4 linked regions of the Homo sapiens genome follow. The protein of the gene in region 3 interacts with the protein of the main gene of each other region in a pairwise test. Each region holds a gene or a part of one and is shown on either strand. Other genes may lie near its edges. The genes, in order: CBY2, GPRASP2, EFCAB3 and HPRT1.

Region 1 (6,887 bases), on a different chromosome or scaffold from region 3:
CTTAATGAAATTCACAGAGCACGTTCATTGGGGAAACGCGAAAGTCTGTGAGAACTGAATCATTACATACAAAAGGAACCAGGAGATCAGCTAGCTTGGGCTGGAAATGACACTGATGGCTTGCAAGTTAATGTGCTGGAGGGAAAGAGATCAGAAAACACAAATATTTAATGTGAGGAAGAAAAACAGGAAATCAATGAGTCCTGAAAAGACCTTAGGGTGATAACATGTAGTGATCACAGGCATTTCCAATGTAATTGAGAAGCCCAAACGCACAGCAGGACTGGCAGCTGGGAGCCAGAGGCAGTCTCTGGAGACAGAGCTGCTGCCACAAGTCCTTTCTGAAACAAATGGAAAGTGGACTCCATCCCAGAATAGAGCAGCTTTTGGCAAATACAAAATAAGAAGCCCAGAGATGAGTGGTTAAGATGCAGGGAGAAGACTCCATCTCCAAAAAGCAAGAGAAGAACCATGGAGCTAAGATGCAGCATGGCCCAGCTTACTGGCATGTGCCCTAGTATAGCGGAGAACATGGGCACTGATTTGAGTTCAAGCCCCTTCCTCGAGCTCTGCCATTACTAGTGGGGTTCCTGGGGTTGCCGGTTCCTGTACCTGTAAAATCTCTACCTCACACTTGCTTGGCCCCATGCCCGACACATGATCGCACCAACATTCAGTCAATATTTCTTCCTCTCCTTGCTTCCCAGATCAACCCTGTCCCCTAAGCCATGTGCCATCTCATTTAGGGAGGTAGAGTGAGCACACTGGTCCCTCTCGCAGGCCTGGTGGTATTTTGGTTCGGATCATCTAGTTGTAGACACCCACACCCATCCCCCAGAGTGCCAGTCTTGAGCATCCTGACAGGTGTCCAAAACCTGGTGCATGGCTTGTGCCCTCTTGGCAGGTGTACGCACGAAGCTGCATCTGCCCTTGTGAGGTACACGTGCCCAGACAGGAGATATCCTCTCATTCTTCACCCACTCTGCCCCACAAGACCCCAGCAGCAGCACCAGGTCCTCCAGCACAGGAAGCAGGCAGCCCCAAGACAAGCTTGAGCTGTCTTAAACCACCTTCTCTTCTCCTTGATCGTTGGGCTGTTTCTGGGAGCTGGGGAGGGAAAGTTGCGGTGGGTGTTGATGGAAACATCATTCCAATTTCTCTATCACATGACCACTACTCTTTCAAATCCTACCCCCTCCTTCACACCCACCCCTAGGTTGGCATCCTCTGCCTGACCAAGTTTCTTAAACACCAACTTTGCTAACATTACCGAGGGTTACTATCAGAGAACATTCAGCCATCTGAGGTACTTTCAAAGCATGTAAAGTTGAGGGGCCCCAGGATTCTGGAAGAAAAGATTGGTTTATATGGGCTATGAGGAATCACAGCAGTAACACCCACTCTTGGGGGAGTAGTGGCTAACACAACTCCCTGCGTATTTCAGGTGGAAAGAATCAGGCCCAAAAAGATTCCTACAGCTTGTTATCTTGTTGAATGATCAGGGGGAAGTTATCTTATATTCTGGCTAAGATTCATGGGCTAAAAGTAACAGAAAAGTGACTGTTCATTACAAAGTTATAAAGATAATGTGAAAATAAACATCCAGGATGTTTTCTTCTTCCATATTTTTGCCTCCCGCTGAACATACTTGCCTAGATTGTTACAATTATATATATGGAATGCCCACCAGTGGTCAATCCTCCTCCTACACATCCCTGGACAGAGCTCTCAGATAGTTACCTCTGCATTGGATTCCTCCATCCTACATTTCAACCCCTCTGGTTGCATGGCCCTGGTCTTCCAATGAGGACTTAGGTGACTCTGGAGAAAGCAAAGCCACCCCTTTGTGACATAGCAGCAGTAGAAACAATTCAATCAAGAGGACTCCACTAAGGAAACAGCTGATTGCAGGCAGGAGGAGACCTGAGACTCTATAGCCTGTGAGGACTTCACCAATTCATTGACTGAAAAAGCATCTATGCCCATGGCCCCTACATCTGTCTTTGATGCATAGCAGGGCTTAATTCTCTTGACAGCTCCAAATAACTCTGTACCCCTTTGTCCACGGATGAGGTTTTCTTCTCATGGATTCATTCTTATGCATTTGATTTCAAGTCCCAGTTCTAATTCTCCCCCAGAAATCCAGAGTGATTGCACAACACTAAGCACCAAAAGATCTCGTTTTGAGAAGGCTGGGTTACTTCAGTGTATCATAGAAACTTGGAATGTTAGGACTGGAAGTTCTTACCAGATCATCTGACCCAGCCACCTCATTCATGGGAAAAAGAACCCAAGGCCCAGAGGGGCTATGTGGCCTTCCCCAGCACACCGCCTGCTGGCACCCAACCCAAACTATAATCTGAAGCCCTGACTATCTCTGCTTATTCTACAACATCTTGCTAGAGTTTTGAAGGAGGAGATGGGGGGTTATTCTGGCTAACACTGATAGGTTACATCCTTCTGTGATTATCCCTACCTGAGGTAGAACCACACTGATTGGAATTTCTAGGCTTTCAGATCTGGTATCTCTTTTTCTTGTATAATTTGGCCTTGAGTGCTGTGGAAACGAGAAAAGAAGAAGATTACTGCTTCCCAGCTCATCCTCTGGGCCTCAATTGCTCGCCTAAAAAACACAGAACTTTCTACTCATTTATTTCTCTCTTGTCAATTATGTACAATTATGAAAGTCTGAGTCTGAAAGAACGTGTAGATGATATCTGGCATGATGGTTTATCAATCTCTGAACAGATATTAAGCTAGATATTATAGTTGATGTAAAAGGCTTTTGAAAGTTTTTGAAGTGGAGATAGCTGTACCTGCTTCCCTGTCTAAGATGATTATTTCTATCTCAAGTAAAAAGCCATACCAATGTGAGTTGCCAGGTATAGGTCCTATGCAGAAGTTGGTCACCAAAACACTCAGAACATTCCAGAGGTGACATCACAAAACAATATGGTGTTTTTCAGGGCTCATGGTTTCTCTCTGAGCATCACAGGTGGGAATGAGGCATCTGACAGGCAGGAAGAGCTTGTGGGTGCTGTGACTACTTGGCTGGTCAGGGTCAGTGTGACACACACAATAGCCCAAACATTAGCCCCCTGTTGGGTCATTCCAGCTGCCATTCGTATTCTCACTGCCAGGCTAAGTTGAGATCCCTATTCTCTCTCCAGAAGTGGCATCTTCTTGGAGTTGGGTCACTCAAGAAGAAAGAAACACAAACTGAACTCTTCCCATACCAAGGGAGAAAGTGTAGTCTGAGGTGTTTTCTGACACTACTCAATTCCTTAATTCTCTGACACCAACTGTGTGCCCTACAATTCAATTTCATCCTGATGCTATCTACCAGAGTTAGTGTTACAGAGCTGAAGCGGCTCACTACCCAATGCAATAGAAGCCAATACTAAAACACTAAGTTCTTTAAAAAAGAAAAACTTGTATATTGAAAGTCAACTCCCAAGGAGACAAGAGTCAAGCTCAAATCTGTCTCTCTGTGCTGACATTAAGGTAGTATTTTTATTAGAAAAGATTCAGGGGGTGGATTCTGAGATTAGTAGGTGATTGGTGGATGGAAATGGGAGGTCTGGAAAGTCCCAAAGAGTAAGAAACCAGTTACTTAATTTTTGAGTTTCAAGATAGCAGATAAGAAAAGAAACTTAAGCCGCTGAAACTCCCTCCACTTGTGAGATCAAGAAAAACCTGGCTGAAACTGGTTGGAACCAAGATGGCTAACTGGAGCTTGCACAGAATAAGCTTGCTGATGTCATAGCCTGAATTTCCACCACGTTTCATACTAACTCTCCCTGAATTTGCCATGCAACTCAGGAGTTAACATGAAGAAATAACTATGCATGCCCAAGGACTTTCCAGACCTCCCTTTTCCTTGCACAAATCACCTACTAATCTCAGAATCCACCCCCTGAACCTTTTCTAATAAAAGTACTGCCTTAATGCCAGCAGAAAGAGACAAATTTGAGCTTGACTCCTGTCTCCTTCAGAGGTGACTTTTAATATAAAGCTTTTCTTTTTTTCAAAAATTTGGTGTCAGTGTTGGCTTCTAGCACATTGGGCAGTGAGCCCCTTTTGCTTGTTAACAAACTAGAACCCCAGGTGAGACGAACAGCCTGTCCAAGGTACTGTTGCCCCTAGTGGTGTGCAGGCCCCCTGCACTGATCCTGAGTGGCCACCTAGACCAGGGTGTCCAGAGGCTCGACTATAGGGTTCCTTCTTCTCCACCATGGCACTTCAGGCTCCCTTGGCACTTCTCTTTTGGGAAAATAAATTGCTTCTGGATTAGACATCTTTCTGGTGAGTACCTTGTTAATATGCCCCTGTACTTTTAATTGTCTTTGAACTCATCATAACGACTGTGGGTTCAAGTCCCACCCTGTGGTTTAGGATTATGGATGAGAGTCCCAACCTTGTCTAGGATTGTGGATTTGAGTCCTACCCAAGGGGGATTCTGGTCAGTTCAGAGTCCCAAATCTGGTGTATGTTTAAGTCCCAAAGAATTAAGGCAATACTAAAAAGCTACAGCCACTAAGATAATCTAGTCTGGTTCTGATTTTTGTTGGTCTGTCTGTATTTTTGGTCTGTGTAGCAATATTTGGCTTAACAGAGGTCAAAGACTGTGATGGCTACAGCAGAAGCCTTATGAGATCTCCAGACTCCTGCACACTCAATTAGAACAAAGCAACTCCATAAACTAGAAAACCTGAAGAAAAATGGCACATGTAAAACATTTTCAGTCAATCCCTCTTTCTTCTTCTGTCCTTAAAGAGTTACCATGTAGTCTTCTAAGTTCTTTGCCTATTTTTCCTTCCTGACTACTCTGAATCTGCTGACTTTTCTGCTGGTGTTGAAATAAAACTTACTGTTCATGGTATTACTAGTTTCAGGTTACTGGCTAAAGAAAAAAAAGGAAAGAGGTCTTTTAAAATCAAAGTGCCCTGGAAACTGCTTTGCTCATCAGGGCAAATAAAATTTAGCCATGTGAACAGATTCCAGTTTTATCAGGAAAATAAGTTTGATCCAACTGTCTTGTTTATGCATATACATGCATTATGTTATATGTTGTGTCTATATGGTACCAAATTAGCTTATAAATAAAAGAGTACTGATAAATTAAATAAATAAGTCCAAATGCTTTCAAGTTCATTTGACTTTAATAATCTTTGGAAAATTAAAAAAAAATTATTGATAAAATAAAAATAGATATGTCTTCAGGATTGTCAGCATGTATTTTTGCCTGTGTTTACTGGTCAGCTGATATGTGCATCTGATAGTTATTTTAAGATGTCCAGGTTTGGCAAAAAGTTATGAAATTACAAACCCGGCCAAAACAGAATAATCTTTGTTTATGTGATTCTTTTGATAAATAAGACTAATTTAATATTGTTGGTTTAATGAAAACAATGAAATCCTCTGATTTATCAGCAAAATATCTGTGTATTTCACTTTAAAGTTCTTGCTTAGGTGAACACCTGATATTCACAAGCTGTAAAATGGTTAACAAGGAAATAACTTAAAATGGTGACTAGCTTTGTCTAATATCTCTATTCTCATAACTAATCTAGATAAACTGTTAAAAACAAATAAATTAGATAAATGTAAATGGGACAAATGTGTGTAAATGAAATTCTTATGTTTTTCAAAATCTTAAAGTTATGATACTTACTATCATACTTTACTTACTGAGCAGCTGGGTCACTTCCAATTAAGAAATGTATAAGGAAATGTTTCTAAAGATTAAAACATGGTTTTAAAATACATGAAATACTTATAATATTTTATCTTAAAATACTGATATATTGCAGACAATTCAAGATTTCTTACTTCCTAGGTTCTTCCCTAAAATCCCTAAAATAAGGATTACTAAGAGTTAATATTGTAACTTATATAAGTAATTGAAACTACTAGATACAAGAGAAACAATTCTATTTGCAGAATGTATACGAAAAATAGGATGTGTTTTTGGTAAACACACAAGAAGACAGGAATATGGTTTTCGTTTAAGGGCAAGTAATTTTGCCTAGTTTAGAGGTTCTAAAGGATTGTTTTAAATTGAAGGAATTAAAAAAGTGTAGATAAAACTAAATAAATATAGAAAGTTGAGAAAGAATGAAAATAAAACAAATTGTAAGAGGTTATAAAAGGTTTATGGAAATCTTACCTTGCAGTCAAAACAAATTGAGATTGAATAGATTTGTTTATAAGGTCTTATTAAAATTAGCTGTAATATTAAAAATGCGCTAATACAAAACTAAAAATTTTGGTTAAAGCAACAAAATTTTTTGAAGTATTGATTTGCTCTCAATGATATTGCAAGAAATATTGAGTTTAAATTCTAAAATTAAAACGTCAGATTTATATCTCAGAAGTTCAACTTTTCCTGCACCTTGTTACATATAAGTTGCAGATCACATTCATTATCTTCTGTTTTTTCCCCCTTGAAAAAAAAATATCTTTTTGCTTGGCTGGAATGATAACTGTCCTCTTCAACTTGTTCATCAACTCTTACAACTTTTTACCCCAGTCCTAATGCTGTTCTTATGGCATAATGCTAAAATATTTATCTTAAAAGTTTAGAAAAGCAATGTTTTCCTCAAATGTAATATAATTTTATACTCTTGGCCTTATGATATGTCTGAATTATTTCATATAACCAGGAAACCTCCCATGTAACTTTCTGTATTACTTTTGAGGTCTTTTGACTGTCATGCTAGTTAAATGAATAACTGTTATTTTTAAATGACCTGTAGCTCTGTTTTGATCAAATGTTTTGAATTTTTAACGTCTTTGGTAGGATTTATTTGGTAAAACTCTATGGGAGACACTATCAAATGCTAAATAATACTAGATCTTCTTTTGGTTATGTTTATGGGTATGCT
Region 2 (6,833 bases), on a different chromosome or scaffold from region 3:
CCCCTGGTCCAAACCAGGGCTGGATTCCTTTCTGACCCTGGGTGCCAGGAAAGGTTTCAGCATCCACATTGACTAGTTCTCTATCCATAGACAGGCCCTTAGATTTAGTAACTGATCCAGACTCAGCAGTGGCCAGTGGCCAAGCAACGGCATTAGTCTGGGACACTCCTTCTGCCTGTGACACTGCTTCAGTCCCAAATTCACTCTGGGCCCATGCCTGGGCCTCATCCTTGGGCCTTGCTCCAGGGATTGCCTTGGCATCAGTTTTAGAACGAGCGCCACCTACTGCCCTGGCATCGGTTTTGGGCCTGGCCCCTGTGATTCCTTGAGCCTCCGTTTTGGGTCTTGCACCACCCATTACTTGGACCTCAGTTTTGGGCCTTGCCCCAGACATTGCTTGGGCCTCAGTTTTGGGCCTTGCCGCAGGCACAGACTTGGTCTCAGTTTTGGGCCTTGCCCCAGTAGTTGCCTGGGTCCTAACCTTGGGTCTGACCACCAGAGGGACATCATTCTCTCTCTCAGGCCCAGCGATAACCTCTTCCCCAGCCTTCTTTTCAGGCTTGGCCTGGGCACTAGGCTCAATCTCTGCCCCAGTCATGGTACAAGTTACAAAGAAAGTCAGGTAATATACTCCTCCCGTAGTCTAAACCTCAACCACAGATCTGTCACAGGTTTGTTTCTTCACACTCTGATCTTTAGGTGATTAAGGATATAAGCTTGGGAATAAGAGTTAGAGTCAATATCCAGTCCAGTAGTCACTCAGCCTCCTTCCCAAACACAGTCTCAGTCAATAATTCAATAATACAGATAGAGTGAGAACAGGTACAACCAAGCTAAAGGAAGACAGATATTTCCTGGATGGGTGCAGACCCGTTGAGGGTGGTTGTCAGCAGCAACTCCACCACCAGCAGAGCAGCCACTGGAGGTGGATCTAGGGAGAGAGAATGAAATGAGGCTTTGAGTCTCTTCCAATTGTATGAGACGTATGCAGTGCGACTGATGTTGAATGCTAGGTGGGACAGCTGGGCTTTGAGAAAGTCTCTCTGGACCGGCTGCCTCCTACAAAACAGGTCCAACAATGGTGGGAAAGTGTGTCGGCAATGGGAGGGGCCAAGAAGCCCCCAGATTGGACCCTAATCACTCCCGGACCCATGCTGGTCTCCACTACCCCGCCCAAAAGTATACCCGCTCTCATACCAACCTTCACTGATGTGGTGCAGTTTCCCCCTCCTTTTCTTGTTCAAGTGGTGTCAAGCCCCACAGCTGACAGAAGGGGGTCCTACAGACAAGTGAACATACAGGAGAGAATGGAGTGTGAGTGCTTGGTAGGTAGGTGGGCACTCTGGCCCCTGTGACAAATATCTGTCTTCCCATTCAAGAGTTCAATGTATCTATGGTTTCCTGTGTCCTAGTCCCTGCTCTCAGGTCTTTTCTGAGTCACAACCCAACCTACACCTATCTCGTGTCTCCTGCAAGAAATAAAAAGGATGCTGGCACTGTGCAAATCCGGCAGAATAGAAGTGGGTCTGCCACTTCTACTACAGGTGGAAGTGGATCTGCCACCTGCCATGCTCTCTCCAACTGTCCCCTGCATTGTCCTCTCCCCCTTCTCACTAACCTCCAGAGCTGTGAGCCAGTCTCCTCCTCCTTGCCTTTCTTGCAGAATTGGCCAGCCTTAAAGTAGGCCTATGGACAAACACATGAAAAAGTAAGACAGTCAGGATATGAGTGGTGGCAGAAGAGCACTTGGTAGACAGGCCAACGCCAAGGATAAGAGTCCCCATATTATTGGTATCTGTCTTTCAACATTCGGGGTTTTGCTGGTGGAATATTCTCGTTTTATTTGGGCCCTGCTTCAAGGTTCCAGAGATAACAACTCCTTCTCTTGACGTCATATTCTTCCCATTACTCCCTTCTCCAATTCTGAGGATTCACCACTAGGTGCGCCACATCCCCTTGCTCTGCGCAGCATAAAATGGGGGAAGGGCGCCGCATATTCTAGAAAACAGGTTGTGAATTAGTACTTGTCAGTATGTCTCCCTCATCACCCCCACCTCCAAAGCCCACCCTTTCATGCCCCCAGTTTAGGACGGTGGGGGAGACAGGTGGGGATGGAAGGTGGGGGGAGCGCCATTAGAGAGGTGAAGATTAGGAGGTGCTCCTGGATGCCTGACTTGCTCTGGTCACAGTCCCCTACCCCGATTCGGGTCCCCAATCAGTGTTTAGCGCCCAACCCCCATCCCCACACACCTCCAGAAATCCAGGCAATATTCGTGCTCCTTTATTTCAAGCCTCTCCTCTACAGACGCTCACTGTGTCCTGTCAGAATACGCCAGACCTACCGCACAGACACAAGACTTTGACATCAACCTGGAGCCTGTGGGAAGGGAAGGCACCGAGGACATGGGGCCCCACAGGCCCCTTTCGGGAATCGGGACCCGGAGTAGCAAACGCGGCTCACCTCCGGCGGACTGGGTACAGAGCCGGGACGCCGACCCCCGCCGGCCTCGCCGGGCGCCCCCCAACGGCCTTCCCGGGCGCCCCCACAGCGGCTCCCGCTCCGCCATTTCTCCCGCAGGAGCCTCCCCCACAGCCCTCTCCGGGCACAGACACCGTCGAGGGCGGGGCGCGGGCGCCTGCAAAGCTGGCTGGGAAGCGGTCAGCGCGGTTCTCCTCCAAACGATCTGGCGGTGCCTCCCGAGCCAGCCCCTCAGCCCTTGGCCAGGCCCGCTCCGGTCACCGCCTCCCCATCGCCAGGGGTCTCGGGCACTGCGCACCTCTCTCAAGCGCCTGGCTCCGACCGGATCGTCTCCTCGTTGCCAGGCTGTCAGGGTCCGCGGGGCAGGCTGCCTGCTGGTCCACCCTGCCAGACCACCCCCGCAACCCGGACCCCCACCTCATGCACCCGCACTTGCCTTCAGAGGCCCAGGGCCCAGGTCGTCGGCCTCCCCCTCCTCTCCTCAGCTCTCCTCTGGCTCACTTGGAGCCACTGCTTTCCCCGCGATCCGAACGGGAAAGACGCGTCCCGCCCCCCACGCCTCTGCACCAAAGTAGGCAGGGGCTGCGCAGGATGCGGCAAGAACCGCTCGCCGCGAGGGTGTCGGGAAGGGGGGCGGAGGGATACGGCGCGAAAGTGCTTGACGCCCCCATCCCAGGCCCACCGTAGTTCCGACCCCGAGGTGGGCAGGGCCAGGATGAGCCCCAGCCTGGGCGTGCGGGTTGGCACCAGGCTGCCTCAGGAGGCCCCCACGGACCCTAACGTGGCGACCACTACCATATTTCTGTCGCTGCTGTAATATATGGGACCAGCGGGCGGCTGGGGGCCCGGGCAGGGGACAGGATCGCGAGGTCGGGAAGAGCCGCGCTGGAGAGAACAGCGGATGGATACCAAACCGCCCCGTGATGTGTCTGCACCCCCGCCCCAACCGCCCCCCTCACAGGGACTGCTGGGTGTCTGCCCCCTCCCTCTCCCCAGTCCCCTAACCCTCCTTTCTGGAAGCTGATGGGAAAGGGGGTGTCAGCACTGCAGTGTGGGAGGGGAGAGGCGATTTCAGGCCATACAGGCCCGGGGCTCTAGGGTGGTCCTCTTGTGCGTTTCTTTCCCAGCTTCGTGGAGCCACGCAGGGGAGGAAGGTACACCTGCTCTTAAGTGAACTCCGGGGCAGGGGGCTCCCATCAAGGACTCACCACTGCCCCTCTTCTAAAAGAAGGTAGACCTAGACCTCTAACCCTAGGAAACCAACCACTGGTCTGCACCAAACTCATTCCTTTCTGCCACACTGCTCTTTCTCATTTCAAATGGTGGCTCACGTTGGCATTGCGCCGTCGCCACAGTTGCCCCCAGAAGAGGACCTTTCCCTGTCAGGACCCGCAGGAGGTCATAACAGTCCTCTCTCTTTGATGCCGCCAGGTAGGGATGGTCCTGGCTCCTCTTCGGTTCCCTGTCAAGTCTTCTCTTGCCATGACATTTGGCAGTGTGGAAATGTGGCTGGTATTCGAACCAGCTTGGATCTCAGCCACCTGCCACAACTACCTGCTGTTTCAGCAGTCATTCTCAGGAGAGGATCCCACCGTGCACCCCCCTCCCCGAGACAAAGCAACCTGGCTCCTTTTGAATCCTCTTCTTTCACCCCAACATCCGTCCTCTACTCTTGAGCCCCTCCTTTCCCTGCTTCCTGCATGGGACAGACAGAGCAATGTGGTTAAATACGAAGTTGATGTTGTTGTTACTGCTGTCCATTTGAAAACTCATTTAGGTGCTACCCTTATTGTGTTTGGCAAGTAACGGTCCCCTAAAGATGTCCATGTCCTGTTCTCCAGAACATGTACCATTTTATATTTCCTGGCAAAGGATCATTAAGATTGCTAATCAGCTGAATTTAATTTAAGATTATGCTGGATTATCTTGGCCAATGTAATTGCAAGGGTACTTTAAATGTGGAAGAGGGAGGCAGTGACTCAATATCAGATTGAAGCATCATGAGAAGGTCTACACTGGCCATTGTTGGCTTTGAAGATGGAAGGAAGCCAAGATCCAAGAAATACAGGCTGTCTCCAGAACCTGGAAAAGACAAAGAAACAGATTCTTCCCTAGAAATGCCAGAGGGATAGCTCCTCTGGCAACATCTTGATTTTAGTGTAATGAAACCCTTTGCAGATTTCCAGCCTCTAGGACTGTAAGATAATAATAAATTTGTATTATTTTAAGCCCTTCTATGTGTGGTAATTGGTTAAAGCAGCAGTATGAACCTAATACACTCACCATCCTGATGAAGTCTATTCCCCTTGACTTTCTTTACCCGTGGATCAGTCTCTGGGGAAGATCTATTTTGGAGCTCATGCCTCACCACTACAAACATCAATTGCCTCTTCTTTGCTTCCTAAAGGACAGTGATTTTTTTTATGTCCCTTATAGGTAATCTTGGAGAAAGTTCCTTTTTGCTGAAACCACTGATATTTCCCAGGTACAAAAGGGAACCCTATTCTTTTGTTGTTGTTGTTGCTGGTTTTGAGAGGGACTATCGGTGTTGTTGCCCAGGCTGGCTGGAGTGCAATGGTGCCATCTTGGCTCACTGCAACCTCCGCCTCCTGGGTTCAAGTGATTCTCCTGCCTCAGCCTCCTGAGTAGCTGGGATTACAGGTATGCCCCAAGACGCCTGGCTTATTTTTTGTATTTTTAGTAGAGATGGGGTTTCTTTATGTTGGTCAGGCTTGTCTGGAACTCCTGACTTCAGGTGATCTGCCTGCCTCGGCCTCCCAAAGTGCTGGGATTACAGGCGTGAGCCACCGTGCCTGGCCAGGAGCCCTATTCTTATGATGAATTTTCATATATTTCCATACAGCTTTTGTTACCAGATATTTACTATAACTGTACAATATTTTGCTGATATGAAGAAAACATGTGAGGATGATTCTGTACCACATCTGGAGATGAATGTTATGTATTAGAGGAAGACCACGTTAACTCTGCCTTTTTCATGGCCTTAACTGAATGGTGGATTTTCTCTGTTCCACAGCATACTCTCATGAATGAATTACAGGCTTGGGAGAACAGAGCCTGGGTCTGCTGGAATTTGTTGGCGCGTGTACATCTCTTTGCCTTCCTGAGCTGTTCTTCCCCTTTCATAACGTTACTGATGCCTTTCATTTATTCAACAAATATATATTGAGCTCCTACTTTCTCCTAGGCAGTGGGCATACAGTATAAACCAAAGAGAAATGAATCCCCTTTCTTGTGGTGCTTACATTCACCTGTGGTTTCCTGTTCAATTCCCTATTCTGAAAGTTTGCAGATGTATCGAAAACTATGCCAGCACAAGTTACTGTGGTAATTCTGGAGGCGCTGGGATCTTGCTCTCAAGATATTTACCTATAGAGGGGTGGTTCTACCAAAAGCTGATCAATTTTACTGTGAGAATTTGAAACGTGTTGGGCAATTTGATGTCAATTCGTTTAGAAAACAGGGACTATGATAGACATTTACTGAACTGAGAAAGGCCCTGTTCTAACCTCTTTGTGTGTAAAGACATTATAGACTATTACCAGAATGTATTATAACTACCTCCTTATACCAGATGAGGAAACCAGCTCGGATAGTTTGTCATTTTTAAAGTGGAGAGTAAATAAAAAGTTAAAAGAAGATGCTGACCTATGCCTGTCTGACTGGTACAAGCTATTTATTTCCTCTTAAAATGTGTTCCAGTCTAATAGATTGCATCAGCCATGGTTTTACTCCTCAGTGCCTCCACCAGCACCTGTGTAACCCTGACTGGCTCCTAAAATCTAAATTTCCAAAACAAATAACTCACAAGCATTAAGCCCAGGACAAAGAGGCAGCTGTACTGACTCATGATACCCACCTCTCTGTCCCCAACCCCACCCCATCTCCCACATGCACGCTTGTGAACTTGCACACTCGTATATCCCTTGCCTGTGCAGCAGCTTGCATTACTTCCTTTTGTCCCTCTTACTCACTGTGGACAAGGACCTGTTTTAACCCTTTTAGCTTAACTTTGGACTTTCTACTGTCATTTTCATTTGCAATTCCCCAGACATGTGATATTTAGTATGTATTCATATGCTCATTTGCCATCTGAATATGTTTTTTGGCCAAGTGTCTGTTCCCATCATTTACCCAATTTTAAAATGGGTTGATTGTTTTCTTATTGTTAAGTTTAAGAATTCTTATGTATATTTTGGATAGCAATCTTTTATCAGATGTCTGTTTTGCAAATAGTTTCTCTGTGGCTTCTCTTTTTCAATCTCTTAACAGTTTATTTTGTAGAGGAGAATAATCTTTAATGAGACCCAACTTATCAATTTGTTCTTTCATG
Region 3 (6,843 bases):
CATATAATAAATATTTGAAGAGTATTTTAATTGTTTCATCATAATCTTTATGAGCATTTAATATATTAGTAATTTTTTTTTGAGATGGAGTCTTGCTCTGTCACCAGGCTGGAGTGCAGTGGCACAATGTCAACTCACTGCAACCTCTGTCCCCCAAGTTCAAGCAATTCTCCTGCCTCAGCCTCTCGAGTAGCTGGCACCACAGGCGCACACCACCATGCCTGGCTAATTTTTGTATTTTTAGTAGAGACGGAGTTTCACCATGTTGGCCAGGATGGTCTCGATCTCTTGACCTCATGATCCGCCCACCTCGGCCTCCCAAAGTGCTGAGATTACAGGTGTGAGCCACTGCATCTGGCCAATAATCTCAATAATTTTCTTTTTTTTAGGGGCTTCCCAGTAAAGATCGGAAAACCTGCTAGACAAAATTCTAAAAGAGCTGTAACACTAATAATTCTTTATCATAATACATTTATCACCCTTAATCATTCATTACCTACCTTTTATTGTGGGAGATGGGTACTTTTGTTAGAGGATTCAGCTTAAGTTTTGGTTTAATTTCTGAAACTGCCATGTGGCCAGTGACTCTGTCTGGAATTCAGAATATACAATTAAGAAATCAGTTTACAGATTCATTCTTTATATTCTTTTGCAACTTTTTCAGCTCAAAGCCTGGAGTTTGAAAAGTCTAGGGCCTCAAGAAATGGTAATAGATGCAAACTCAAGTTAGAGGTATGCATAAAGTTGGAATGCCATGTGGAAATTCCCCTTCGTTGTTCCCGATTTCTGAGCAAAGTTGCTTGTCACTGCTCCCCCTTCAATTAGTGTCACTCTGATCCTATGTAAGAATAAATGCTAAGTGAAATAAGCCAGACACAGAAAGACCAATGCTATATGATCTAACTAATATGTATAATCTAAAATAGTTTAACTCATAGAAGCAGAGAGTAGAATGGTGGTTGAGGAAGGAGATATGGGGAGATGTTGGTGATACAAAGTTTGAAGATGAATAAATTCTGAAGATCTAATGAACAGCATGGTGACTACAGGTAATAATACTACTGTAATGTATACCTGAAATTTGCTAAGAGATTAGATCCTAAGTGTTCTCACTACACACACACACACACACAAATAGTAACTAAGTGAAGTGATGAATATGTTAATTAGATTGATTGTGGTGATTGTTTAACAATGTATACATATATCAAATTATCAAGTTGTACACCTTAAATAATAAAAATGGTGCCATGTGACACAGATAATGAGCATTCTGGAAATATATGGAAAAAGTTATTTAAAGATGCTATTTTATTATGAAATCAGTAGAGCATTTCAAGTCATAATTGACAAAGAATAAAATGTATTTGCCTACTTGTTTACATCTTAGATACCTGCCTAGTAGTAAGTAGATTTTCCCAGGGTTTCTTTTGGGGAGACTCATCCCTGCCCTGTCACTTCTTGGGACCAACTGTTGTTTGTTTGTTTGTTTTTGTTTTTGGATGTGTAAAAGGCTTTATTTGCAGGGGAGCAGGAATTTAATAAAAGAGACCAAATCCCATGTCATCGTCTGACTCTTTGGACACCTCCTCCTCCTCCTCATCTTCTCCTCTGCTGCAGCGGGGGTGGAACCAGCAGCAGGAGCTGCACAGCCTGGGGCAGCAGAGACAGCCACAGCCCCACCGGCAGGTACACTGGCAACCTTGCCAATACCCTGGGCAATGACATCTTCAATGCTTTTTCCATTCAGCTCACTGATAACCTCGTTGAGCCGGTCGTCGTCCGCCTCGATGCCTACGCTGTCCAGGATCCTCTTGATGTCTTTGGCTCTGAGGGAGGTGCTGCCCCCGAGGGCAGCCAGCAGGAGGGAGGTGACCGAGCGCACTGGGGGCGGGCGTCTACGGAGGCGGTGGCAAGGCCTCCATGCGTGCGATCTTGGTGGAGTCAGGGAGGAAAAGCCCAGGTGGTCTTGGTTAACAGTAGGAATGGGGGTGGGATACAATGCAGTTCTGCTACCCTAGACCCCGGAAGGAACTTGTGAATTACCGTCGCCTTTCCACTTGGCATAGTTTGAGAAACAGGGCTTATGGACCAGAAGCTGGGTTGGTAGGGCTTCCCCCTCTCTTGTTATTTGAACCAAGCCAAATGTCCAACAATGATAGACTGGATTAAGAAAATGTGGCACATATACACCATGGAATACTATGCAGCCATAAAAAATGATGAGTTCATGTCCTTTGTAGGCACATGGATGAAGCTGGAAACCATCATTCTCAGCAAACTATCGCAAGGACAAAAAACCGAACACCGCGTGTTCTCACTCATAGGTGGGAATTGAACAATGAGAACACACGGACACAGGAAGGGGAACATCACACACTGGGGCCTGTTGTGGGGTGGGGGGAGGGGGGAGGGATAGCATTAGGAGATATACCTGATGTTAAATGACGAGTTGATGGATGCAGCACACCAACATGGCACATGTATACGTATGTAACTAACCTGCACGTTGTGCACGTGTACCCTAAAACTTAAAGTATAATAATAATAAAAAAATGTAGAGTGTATTTGATAGTTCACTGACAAGAAAACTAGGTTGCTGACTTAGGAATAATGGATAATTGAATACTATCCAACCATGAGGAAAAAAAGTCTCTGAATGTTTGGTTAGAATTTGATCCATTTTCCCAGGTCTCCACCTCAGAGCCCAGAAAGCAGTTGTTTCTAAACAACTCAATTACAAGTCCTCAAAATCTGAAAACCTGCCACAGAGCTGGGAACACCAGAATGGCTCAACAATTCAGGCATTTGAAAGGTGCTGTGAAATCATCCCCATACCTCAAAATAATCATTTCTTTAAAAAAATACCTTCAATTCTCATAGATAATAGATTTTTTAAAAAGGACTTAGCATAGAATCCTACAAAATCACGATATTTACCTACTTTTAAGCCGTGCTACCTACCACTTCTGGGCTTCAATCAGATCAGGAATCCAATAAAGGGTTTGTTCCATCACACAACTGTGACCTCATTCACTGCTCAGGCTCAAGCCTAGGGAGAGAATGACCCAGGAGCTCCTTCCAACCTTACAGCAAGTGTGTTTTCAGTGTGGTTCATTCAGCACCCTTGGTGTATATGAGGGTATGATTTATAAAATCTGAACATTTTGACACTGTTGGAATTTCAGGGAAGGGGGAGAATTTTTGTTTCAAGTTCTATATTAATATATTTTCATGTTAATGTCTTCATCAGGCTGGGTGTGGTGGCTCATGCCTGTGATCCCAGCACTTTGGGGGGCCGAGGCGGGCAGATCACCTGAGGTCAGGAGTTTGAAACCAGCCTGGCCAAATGATGAAACCCTCATCTCTATTAAAAATACAAAAATTAGCTTGGTGTGGTGGTGCACACCTGTAATCCCAGCTACTCAGGAGGCTGAGGCAGGAGAATTGCTTGAACTTGGGAGGCAGAGGTTGCAGTGAACTGAGATCACGCCCCTGCACTCTAGCCTGGGCGACAGAGCGAGACTTTTGTCTCAGAAAAAAAGAGAAAGTCTTCATCAGTCAGTTGAAAGTTGTTCAATTAAAACATTTTACTCAGCTGCCTTCACTGAATGGTGATTAAGAATCATTTCATTAATTGTTTAAGCCTAGAAAGAGAGGCAAAAAAACTCTCATAGGCTGTCTTTAGTATTATTGGGAAAAGTGCTTTCAAAAGAACAATTACAGAAAAGATTGTTTTAAGCAGAAACCAAGGTATTCATGATCTGACATGTCTCATGGCATTATAAATACTCTAGCGCAGGAGTTAGGAGTGTCTTTAGTCTATCATGGCTAAGTACAGATATCTCTGGCACCCAAGGCTTAGCTAGTTATATAGTTGGGCCCCTAAAAGTGCTTCAGGTTTCACTTGCAGCAGTTCTAGAGGTTTCCTATTCCTGCTCAGGGGGATTTGTTCATTATGAGCATAATTTGACTTTAACCTAATCTTTTTAAGCTTGGTACACTGCCTCCCATTCTGGACAGGAACACACAAGGAAAGAAAGGGAAGGCTTAATTTATAAATTAATTCAACAATTATTTACTAAGAGCCTACTATATTAAAGGCTACTTACTTAGATTTTTTTTTTTTTTTTTTTGGTGAGGTCTCACTATGTTGCCCAGGGTTGAGTGCAGTAGCAGGATCATGGTTCACTACAGTCTCGACCTCCCAGGCTCAAGTGAGTCTTCCACCTCAGCCTCCCCAGTAGCCAGGACTACAAGGTGCAGGCCACCATGCCCAGCTACTTTTTTGTATTTTTGGTAGAGATGAGGTTTCACTATGTTGCCCAGACTGGTCTCGAAATCCTGGCCCCCAGCAATCTCCTTGGCCTCCCAAAGTGCTGGGATTACAGGCGTGAGCTACCATGCCCAGCCTTATTGTTGTGTTACAGCATTCTTTATATATTTTGGAGACTAGATCCTTATCAATTACATAATTCACAGATATTTTTCCCTATTCTGTGGGTTGTCTTTTTACTTTATTGATAATGTTCTTTCAGCCACAGAAGTTAGTCCTGGAATTTTAAAGCTGAAAGATAACTAATAGATCATCAACCTAATTCTGCCCCCAACCCACCACATTTTTTTTTTTGTTATACTTTAAGTTCTGGGACACATGTGCAGAACGTGCAGGTTTGTTATATAGGTATACACGTGCCATGCGGGTTTGCTGCACCCATCAACCTGTAATCTACATGAGGTATTTCTCCTAATGCTATCTCTCCCCTAGCCCCCCACCCCCCTACCCCCCAACAGGCCCTGGTGTGTGATGTTCCCCTCCCTGTGTCCATGCCCATTTCATTTTTTTTAAAAAAGAGACAAGTTCTTTCTTTGTTAGCTGAGGCTGAAGTGCGGTGGTGCAGTGATGGCTCAATGCAGCCTCCAATTCCTGGGCTCAAGTGATCCTTCCACTCAGCCTCCCGAGTAGCTAGGACTACAGTAGGCAAGTGCCACTACAACTGATTAATTTTAAAATTTTTTATAGAGAGGGGGCCTCGCTGAATTTCCCAGGCTGGACTCATAGTCCTGGCTTCAAGTGATCTTCCTGCCTCCGCCTCCCAAGGCTCTAGGATTACAGGTGTGAGCCAGTGCTCCAGGTCCTCACCCATTTTATTTTACTGCTAAGGACACTAAAGCCCAATGAACTGAATTAATTTCCTTAATGGCAGAGTCAGGAACACCTGCTTTGTAAATTGTACTGTGATACCAAATAGGCTACAGTGTTCTTAGAGGTTAAAAAAATCATAAATGGAGCATTAGAAAAGAATATAAAATACCTGATAATCACATGTGATTCAGTGTGGTGTGGACTATAAAGGTACAAGGAACTTAGAAAGAAAGTTGGAGAGATAACGGTGTTCATTCACTTTATGGACAAGTAGATGGAGGATAGAAACTGACAAGACAATTAGGGAAAGTAACTAAGGTATTAAAAAATGTAAGTCAAAGTATTAAGCCCCATCTTTACAATGGCTTCACATCAGCTTTCACACTCACCTTTAATATCATTTGCAGTTTTCAACTTATGCAGAGTCACCATTCCTTTTGCTTAAAGACAAGATTAAGAATCAAAATTACATGAATTTCTGAAGTTATGGAAAGTAGACTAGGAGGGCATAATTTATCTTATTTTTTTCCCCAGATGAGTGAAAAAATTAAGAAAATGTCAAGGTTATATGGGATATCCATCTTTCATATTGTTTCTTTTGGTGCCTTAATGCATTGCACTCCAAAAGCAAAAATTGAAAAGCACTATAGTGTCAGCATTGAAATCAAGACTATTCATTTATCATCTTTTAGGATGTAAAGAAGTGGAATGACTTTGAAAATCTGTTGATTCAGGAGGAAGATGATCTGTTACCCACTTCATTTTCATGAATGCTTTGTTTAGGAAGGTATTGACTAATTAGATACCTTTTAATGAGATAGATATTTCTTTCTAGTGAATTATCCTATCAAATATGTGGGTATAATTAACTAACTGCAAAATCTCCCTTCACCCCACCCCTTTCTATGGCCAGAACAACAACCAATCAAAACCTTAATAGTACAGATTTAACTTTTTTTCTTTTCTTTCCTCTAAAAATGTGGGAGTAGTTTTGTTTTCTAAGCATGAGGAGATTAATACTCAGGAAAAAAGTGTGGCTATAATAACTCAGTTTCCTATGTTTGGTTTGGTTTGGCCTGGCCAGATAAACCAATAATGTATTATTTTAATATCAAAAAAGGTCCATGGCAGATGATGAAACACAGAAACATGGAAAATGCTTGGTGATCCCTTTAGGTTATAGAGGCTATATAAGGTAATATATAATGCAGAAAGCAATACATATAAAGAAGAAATATCTTTCCTATGGGGAAAGGATTAATTCTAATATGAAACACATAATCTGTAGAATTCAGAAAAACCTACACCTATGAAGCAGCTTTTCTTTTCCTGCCTCTGATCTGGTCACTCTCTCTCTCTCTCTCTATTGCTTGGCTCTTCTCCCTTCCTGGATATTAGTTTGCTAGAGGCACCCTATGCCATTCTTAGACACTGCACGTGGCAACATGATGGTTGAGAATGTGACTTAGAAGATGACAAGAAGCAGACTTTATTTTTATATGGCGACTTTTTTTCTAAATGTATGTTAGACTTTCTCTGTGTCCCTAGTAAGTAAAGTTTTAGAAATTCTCATGTGGAACCTTACAACCCCAGTGCCTCTGAAGGCCAGAGTGAAGTTCTGAATGTTCACCATCAAATAACATAAATTTTAGCAGGTCTTGAAGTTGTTCATATATGAATGTTATTTCCACGTTATC
Region 4 (7,029 bases), on a different chromosome or scaffold from region 3:
ATGGGGAGTGATGGCTAAGGGGATTGGGTTTCTTTGTGGGGCAATGAAAATGTTTTAAAATTGAGCGTGATAATGATTGCACAATGCTGCATATATATATAATCTATAGATTATATATATATAAAGAGAGGCTGTTAGACAGTGATAAGTGATATATATATATATATACATAGAGAGAGAGAGAGAGAGAGAGAGAGGCTGTTAGTGATAAGTGATCAGGAAAATAAAAGTATTGAGGAGGAATACGAAGTTGACGGTGTGAAAACATGAGATTTTATATAGGATGGCCAGGGAAGGCCTTAATGAGAAAGTGACTTATGAGTAAAAACAAGGGATCCTAAACCTTAGCATGCATCAGAATCACTCGGAAACTTGTTAAAGCATAGCTTGCTGGGCCTCATCACAGATATTTTGATTCGGTAGGTTCTTGTCTGATATTAATACTTTTGGTCTAGGGAACCACATTTTGAGAACCACTGAGCTAAAGGAAGTAAAGGTTTCCCTTAGTTTACTAGCTGGTAACCCTAGGAAACTGCTTAGCCTCTCGGTGCTAAGATACAAAATACTTTAGCACATAATAACACATGGAAAATAGTCTATAAATTATAAATATTATTTTTTATGTACCAAATATTACATAAGACAAAATCTAAGCAAGATATATATATATATACATAAAATATAAGATATATATGTATATATTATATATAGATAAATAGAGAGAGAGAGTTATGTTTAGAAAGAAAATACTTCAAACTAAAAAAAGAGAGGTAGGAAGTATACCATTCCATTATTGGTAAAAACAAATTACTAAGTAGTCTTTACAAAAAACCAATCTCACTCCTTTAGAACACAAGCCCACCATTAAAACTGATGCAGAGGAATTTCTCTCCCTGGCTTACCTTTAGGATGGTGCATACTAAGTTAGAAAAGTCATAAATGTTATATTAAAAGTAAATGTGAACTTACTTCCACAATCAAGACATTCTAGAAGAAAAAGAGAAATGAAAATCAGTACAATGAATAAAACGGTATTTCCAATTATAAGTCAAATCACATCATAACAACCCTAAGGAATTATCCAAACTCTTGTTTTTAGATGCTTTATTATATCAAACTCTCCTTTAAACAAGTGGCCCATCTGCTGGGATTTGGAAGCCTGTAATACTGAAATTTTCATCATAATGGAAATTTTAAAAACAGAATTTGACCCACCTGTTTTTAAAACACTTTCATTACTTAACAAGAGGTCTAATCTTGGGCAAGTCTTGAAATTTCTCTGGCCTTAGTTTCCCATGTGTTAAATGAAACTTGAAGCAGTTGGTCTCTTATAGTCTCCTGACTCTAACATTCTAAGAATTATATTTGTACAATAACTCAAAAATCACATAATTTAATTTACCATATGGACTCCAAAATATATTTTCTCATTAGGCTAAACTTGATCTGCATTTTCTGGATGTGTCCATATTCTTGGACTACACTAAAACATGATACCAATGCTTCCTCTCACCATAAACCCTCACTTCGCTTTCTACATTTAAGAATTTTATAGCTGGAAGAGTCCTTAACAGAAAATACCATCTAATAATTACCCCTCAAAATCGAGAAAGTCCTATCTGTTCTTATGCTAGTTATAAGAATGAGGCAGCATTTCACATAATGGTTATAAACACTGCCACAAGAAGATTCATGATGTGTTGTTTATCTGTAGCTCTCATCATACTCTGTCATATAACTATAGCATTAAGATTTTAATGTTCTATATATTCTTCTAAGACAGTGTTTACCAGAGTAAGGCACAAAAGATCCACTGGTTTGCAAGAAAGATTAGAACTTTTAAATTTTTTACCTCACCTTGTTTAATCTATATTTTTGTATGTATTTTGTAACATATATATTATTATTACCATAAATCATATATAATTTAAAATGCATATATTAGGGGTAAATGCTCAGGAAACTTTTTATAAATTGGGCATGCAAATACAAGTTTGAAGACTCACTGTTCTAGGTATTAAAAGTAAAGTTATAACCAAGTAAAGCTTCCACCTTTTCATGTCTCAAAGCAGTTTATTGTTGGAGGTAAGATCTCTTAGAAGCCTAAACAGGTCCAAGTACAGAATGAAGTAAGGCTAGCCCATAACTTGTGGCAAGCAATTCATACTATTTCTCTCATGCTGAGCTCTCCTCAGTGAAGCAGCTACTATAGACAACTGCAGCCTATTGGTAGCCTATTTTACAGGCAGGAAAAAAATTACTTTTTATTCAAAGTGGAACTCAGGACATGGGGAGAAAATGAATACAAAAAATAGGGTCAATCCAAAGGCACACAGCAAATGAGTAACACAGTTATGTTTTTTTCCCATTTGTATGAGGTCCCAGTAAATTCTAAGTAAACTGCAAATTTAATAATACACTAAAAAAGCCATGCAATTGTTCAAATGAATCCCAGCATGGTACAACGAGTACAGACACTAGAGTCTAAAAAACAAAAGAATGCCATTATTGAGTTTTTGAATTATATCAAGTAGTTACATCTCTACTTAATAAATGAGAAAAACGAGGATAAGAGGCCATTTGATAAAATGAAAATAGCCAAGAAGTGGTATTAGAGACTTGAATACAGGTATTCGGGTCCAAAGTTCATCTGCTCAAATACTAACTGGGGAAAAGAGGGAAAAATATTTATATACATATATATCTGCACACAAAAATACCCCCAAAAGACAAAATGAGGCCAGGCAGGGTGGCTCACACCCGTAATCCCGGTACTTTGGGAGGCTGAGGCAGGTGGATACCTGAGATCAGGAGTTGGAGATCAGCCTGGTCAACATGGTGAAACCCTGTCTCTACTAAAGATAAAAAAATTAGCCAGGCATGGTGGCGTGCGCCTGTAATCCCAGCTACTTGGGAGTCTGAGGCAGGAGAATCACTTGAACTGGGAAGGGGAGGTTGCAGTGAGCCAAGATCGTACTACTGCACTCCAGCCTGGGCAGCAGAGTGAGACTCCATCACAAAAATAAATAAATAAATAAAATACAATGAAACAGAAAGTTCAAATAATCCCATAATCTTACCACCAAGAAATAACTTTCACTCGTTATACTTATTGATTTTTCCATAATAAATGTACTTTACTGTGACTATCATGAAAAGAAAGTTATTTTAGAAACAGAGAACTGTTTCAGATCAAATCTATGTAGTAGAACAGAGCCATTAGGTGGGAAAGACGAGATCAAACTAAATCTCAGAAGGCCTAAAAGGCTAGGTCCATTCCAGCACTAAAAACTGACCAGACAAGTAATGGCTTCAACAGCTTCTAAATATGGACAAAGCATGCTGAAAGGGAAGGACAGGTCTAACAGTGGTATATGAAATGAACAGGAGGGGCAAAGCTCATTTCTCCTCTGAAGTTTTCCAAAGATGCTGAGGAGGACATTAGTTTGACATGACCCTGATATGGGACAAGATAATTTCACAGAAGTTTTACATGTTAAAGTTTTCTTATAGATACTCATTCAAGTAAGCAATGAACACTAAAATCTAAAGAAAGAAAAGAGCTTTAGAGTCAGGTCTGTATTCAAATTCAAGCTCTACCACTTACTGGTTCTGTGACTTTGGGCAAGTCTTTTAACCTTATTAAGTCTTAATTTCCTGATTTGTAAAATGGGGATATCGTCTCCCTCACAGGATTGTTGTGAAACTTTTATGAGATTAATGCCTTTATATTTGGCATAGTGTAAGTAAACAATAACTGGCAGCTTCAAAAAAAAAAAGCAGTAGCATTCCATCATTTATTATTGGTTACTCTCAAAAAGTTTTTCAATGTACTAGAAGATAAATATTCAAATACCTTAATATCTCCATTATTTTCAGGTAAACAGCATGCTCCTGAACAACCAATGGGTCAACAAATAAATTAAAAGGGAAATCTAAAAACATCTTGATATTAAACTACATGGAAGCACAATATACCAAAACCAATGGTTCACACTAGGAGAATTTTAAGGTACAAGAAAACTCTTTGAGATTTCTTAAAATAATAGTATGTCTGAATTTATTGAGTGATTTACCAGAAACTGTTGTAAGAGCTCTACTTGCATTATAGCACTTAATCCTCTTAACTCTATGGCTGCTATTATCAACCTCACCCTAATCACATATGGGACACAGAGAGGTTAAGTAACTTGCCCAAGGTCAGAGTTAGGAAGTACTAAGCCATGCTTTGAATCAGTTGTCAGGCTCCGGAACTCACACTTTCAGCCACTACATAATACTGCTTTGCTATCTTTTAGGAAACTATGTGAGTCTACCTCACATAGACTCACATAGGTTTGTTTTTTTTTTTTTTTTAAAGGCTATCTTTTCCCCCATCAATGTTTTTTGAAGGATCCCAAATTAGAGTCCCACAGAGGCAGACAGCAGTACTTGACAATATGGACATTTAAGGTTAATGTTGGATTCTACTGTCTTTTTACTACATGACCTAGGGAACGATAATTAACCTAGACTGCTTCCAAGGGTTAAATAACCCATTTAGTTATACTATGTAAATTATCTCTTAGTGATTGATTGAAAGCACACTGTTACTAATTGACTCGGTATGAAGTGCTTTTTTTTCTTCCCTTTCAAGATACATACCTTTCCAGTTAAAGTTGAGAGATCATCTCCACCAATTACTTTTATGTCCCCTGTTGACTGGTCATTCTAGTTAAAAAAAAAAAAAACTATATATATATATATCTACACACACATATGTATATGTATATCCTTATGTACACACACAAACTTCAAATTAAATGAGAACTAGAAGATTTGAGAAGTTAGCTAGCTAATATCCATAGCATTATGATATTCTAAATGATATGAATTATAAGAATTAGGTTTCCTGAAATGAATGACTAGAAAACTTTCAAGTAGAGATTAGTAAAAATTAAAAAGTCCTAATCGGCCATTACTGATTTGATGTTTTTAAGAGTCCTAAAAAATGGGTTACATCCATTTTTAAGTGGGTAGTATTATAACAGCCACCCATCTTCAATCACAGTGATTTCTGAATTGTGAGGGAAGTTATTAGCATGACAGGTGTCTGGTTCTGGCCCTGTACGATTCCCATGAGTCAAGCAAATTGTAAGGGCTGGTCTATATCACACCCAACCCCAAGGATATGTCCCTCAAAAGTCTAGCCCAGGCCCCGTCATCTTCAGCATCATCTGGGAAACCAGGTCTGATTAGTAGTCCTTTAAGGAATACCTCTTAGGCTCCCATTTTACTGCTATCACAGAATCCAATAAAACCCTTACAGGAGATTCAATGGGAAATGCTCAACACCCACTGTAGTTGGTGGTGACAATGACCATAATTTGGCTGTGCTGGATTCAGGACAGAAAATTTGGGTGAAAGAGCAGGTGAACAAAAGAGCTTCGACTTGCCCTAGCAGAGAGCAAGCCATACCATACCACAAAGCCACAGCAATTACAACGGTGCAGTACCAGCACAGTAAATGAACAAAGTAGAGCCCAGAAACAGACCCAGAACTATATGAGGATTTAGTATACAATAAAGATGGTATTTCGAGTCAGTAGGGAAAAGATGAATTATTCAATAAATGATGTTTGGCCAACTAGTAACCCATTTGGGAAAAAATAAAAGTATGGTCCCTACCTCACAGCATACACAAAAATAAATTCCAGACGGATTAAAATCTAAATGTAAAAAATAAAGCCATAAGTGGACTGGAAGAAAATAGAGAATTTTTTTTAACATCCGTAGAAAGGGTAAAAACCCAGGCATGACATGAACCAAAACTGAAGAGGTTCTGTAACAAATACCCCCTTTTATATATTGGGCTCCAACAATAAGAACCCATAGGAAAATGGAGAATGAACACAAATAGACAATTTATAGAAGAGAAGGTTATAAGGTGTAAAATTATATCTATCTGAGAAACAAACACTAAAACAATGTGATTCTACTGTTCTCCCACCCATACTGGCAAAACTTAAGCCTGATAATATGCTGAGGGGAAATAAGCACTCTTGTTGGTGAGAGTATTAATTGGCATAGCTTCTTTTGAAAATGACATAGCAATACCTGTTAAAATTGCAAACATGCATGTCACTTAATCCAGTAATCCCACTTCTGGGAATCAATGCTACAAAAACACTGACAAGTATACAAAGATACATTCAAGAGTGTTCACTGGGCCGGGTGCGGTGGCTTCATGCCTGTAATCCCAGGGAGGCAGAGGCAAGACGATCGCTTGACCCCAGGAGTTCAAGGCCAGCCCGAGAAACACAGCAAGACCCTGTCTCTCTTTTTTTTATTTAAAAAATAAATGTTCACTGTATCAGTTGTTCACAAAAACAAACCAACATGTCCATTAACAGGGAACCATTTAAATTAATCAAGTTCATCTACACAATGTAATACCATGCAACTATTAAAAAGCACCTGATAATCCAAAGCACACTGAGACAGAATAATGCTATTAAAAACACCAAGTAGTGGAACACTGTGTTGCCTATGACACCATTTTTATTCAACATTTAAACAAATTTGTAACAGCAATTACATGAGTAGTGACAATGGCGTTTATGAGACTTTTCACTTTTATGTGCTTCTATTTTTGTTATGCTTCTATATATACATCCATTTATTATGGAGTGTTACTTTCAAAAATCACAAATGGGCCAGTATTATTTGGTGTTGCAAGGTGAGCATATGACTTCTGATATCAACCTTTGCATATTACTTCTCAATTTAGGGAAATTACAGACATCCCTTATTCTAACTAACTTAAAACCCAGCATTTCAAACATACAGAATTGATGGGGAAAAAAAAGAAAGAAGAAAGAAAGAAAAGGCAACAAGCTTCAGATGACAGTGACTCACATCAAATTATTTATAAAATCTGTTAAATAGTGCCATCTTCTGGAGATACCTGGTATTACAGTCCAACTCCAGTTGATGTCTTTACAGAGACAAGAGGAATAAAGGAAAAAATATTCAAGAACTGAAAAGTAT

The links.
Region 1: the proteins of EFCAB3 (region 3) and CBY2 interact in binary tests that used the Homo sapiens proteins (3 or more experiments, as listed by UniProt).
Region 2: the proteins of EFCAB3 (region 3) and GPRASP2 interact in binary tests that used the Homo sapiens proteins (3 or more experiments, as listed by UniProt).
Region 4: the proteins of EFCAB3 (region 3) and HPRT1 interact in binary tests that used the Homo sapiens proteins (3 or more experiments, as listed by UniProt).

Annotation. Positions count from the first base shown.
Region 1 is NC_000013.11:45,698,445-45,705,331, reverse strand, and holds the start of CBY2 (protein chibby homolog 2), read right to left. Parts: upstream 3,013-6,887; 5' UTR 2,942-3,012; coding exon 2,867-2,941; exon of another isoform or gene 2,817-2,866; intron 2,558-2,816; coding exon 2,477-2,557; intron 1,822-2,476; coding exon of another isoform or gene 1,741-1,821; intron 1-1,740.
Region 2 is NC_000023.11:102,708,635-102,715,467, reverse strand, and holds the start of GPRASP2 (G-protein coupled receptor-associated sorting protein 2), read right to left. Parts: upstream 3,021-6,833; 5' UTR 2,916-3,020; intron 2,629-2,915; exon of another isoform or gene 2,462-2,628; intron 2,378-2,461; exon of another isoform or gene 2,339-2,377; 5' UTR 2,251-2,338; intron 1,687-2,250; 5' UTR 1,619-1,686; intron 1,280-1,618; 5' UTR 1,202-1,279; intron 1,060-1,201; exon of another isoform or gene 932-1,059; 5' UTR 599-931; coding exon 1-598. Other genes in the region: ARMCX5-GPRASP2 (G-protein coupled receptor-associated sorting protein 2), read right to left, coding at 1-598. UniProt on the Homo sapiens protein: May play a role in regulation of a variety of G-protein coupled receptors.
Region 3 is NC_000017.11:62,376,711-62,383,553, reverse strand, and holds the start of EFCAB3 (EF-hand calcium-binding domain-containing protein 3), read right to left. Parts: upstream 3,002-6,843; 5' UTR 2,941-3,001; intron 2,525-2,940; exon of another isoform or gene 2,484-2,524; coding exon of another isoform or gene 2,435-2,483; intron 1,959-2,434; exon of another isoform or gene 1,502-1,958; intron 592-1,501; coding exon of another isoform or gene 575-591; coding exon 501-574; intron 1-500.
Region 4 is NC_000023.11:134,484,146-134,491,174, reverse strand, and holds part of HPRT1 (hypoxanthine-guanine phosphoribosyltransferase), read right to left. Parts: intron 4,711-7,029; coding exon 4,645-4,710; intron 988-4,644; coding exon 970-987; intron 1-969. UniProt on the Homo sapiens protein: Converts guanine to guanosine monophosphate, and hypoxanthine to inosine monophosphate. Transfers the 5-phosphoribosyl group from 5-phosphoribosylpyrophosphate onto the purine.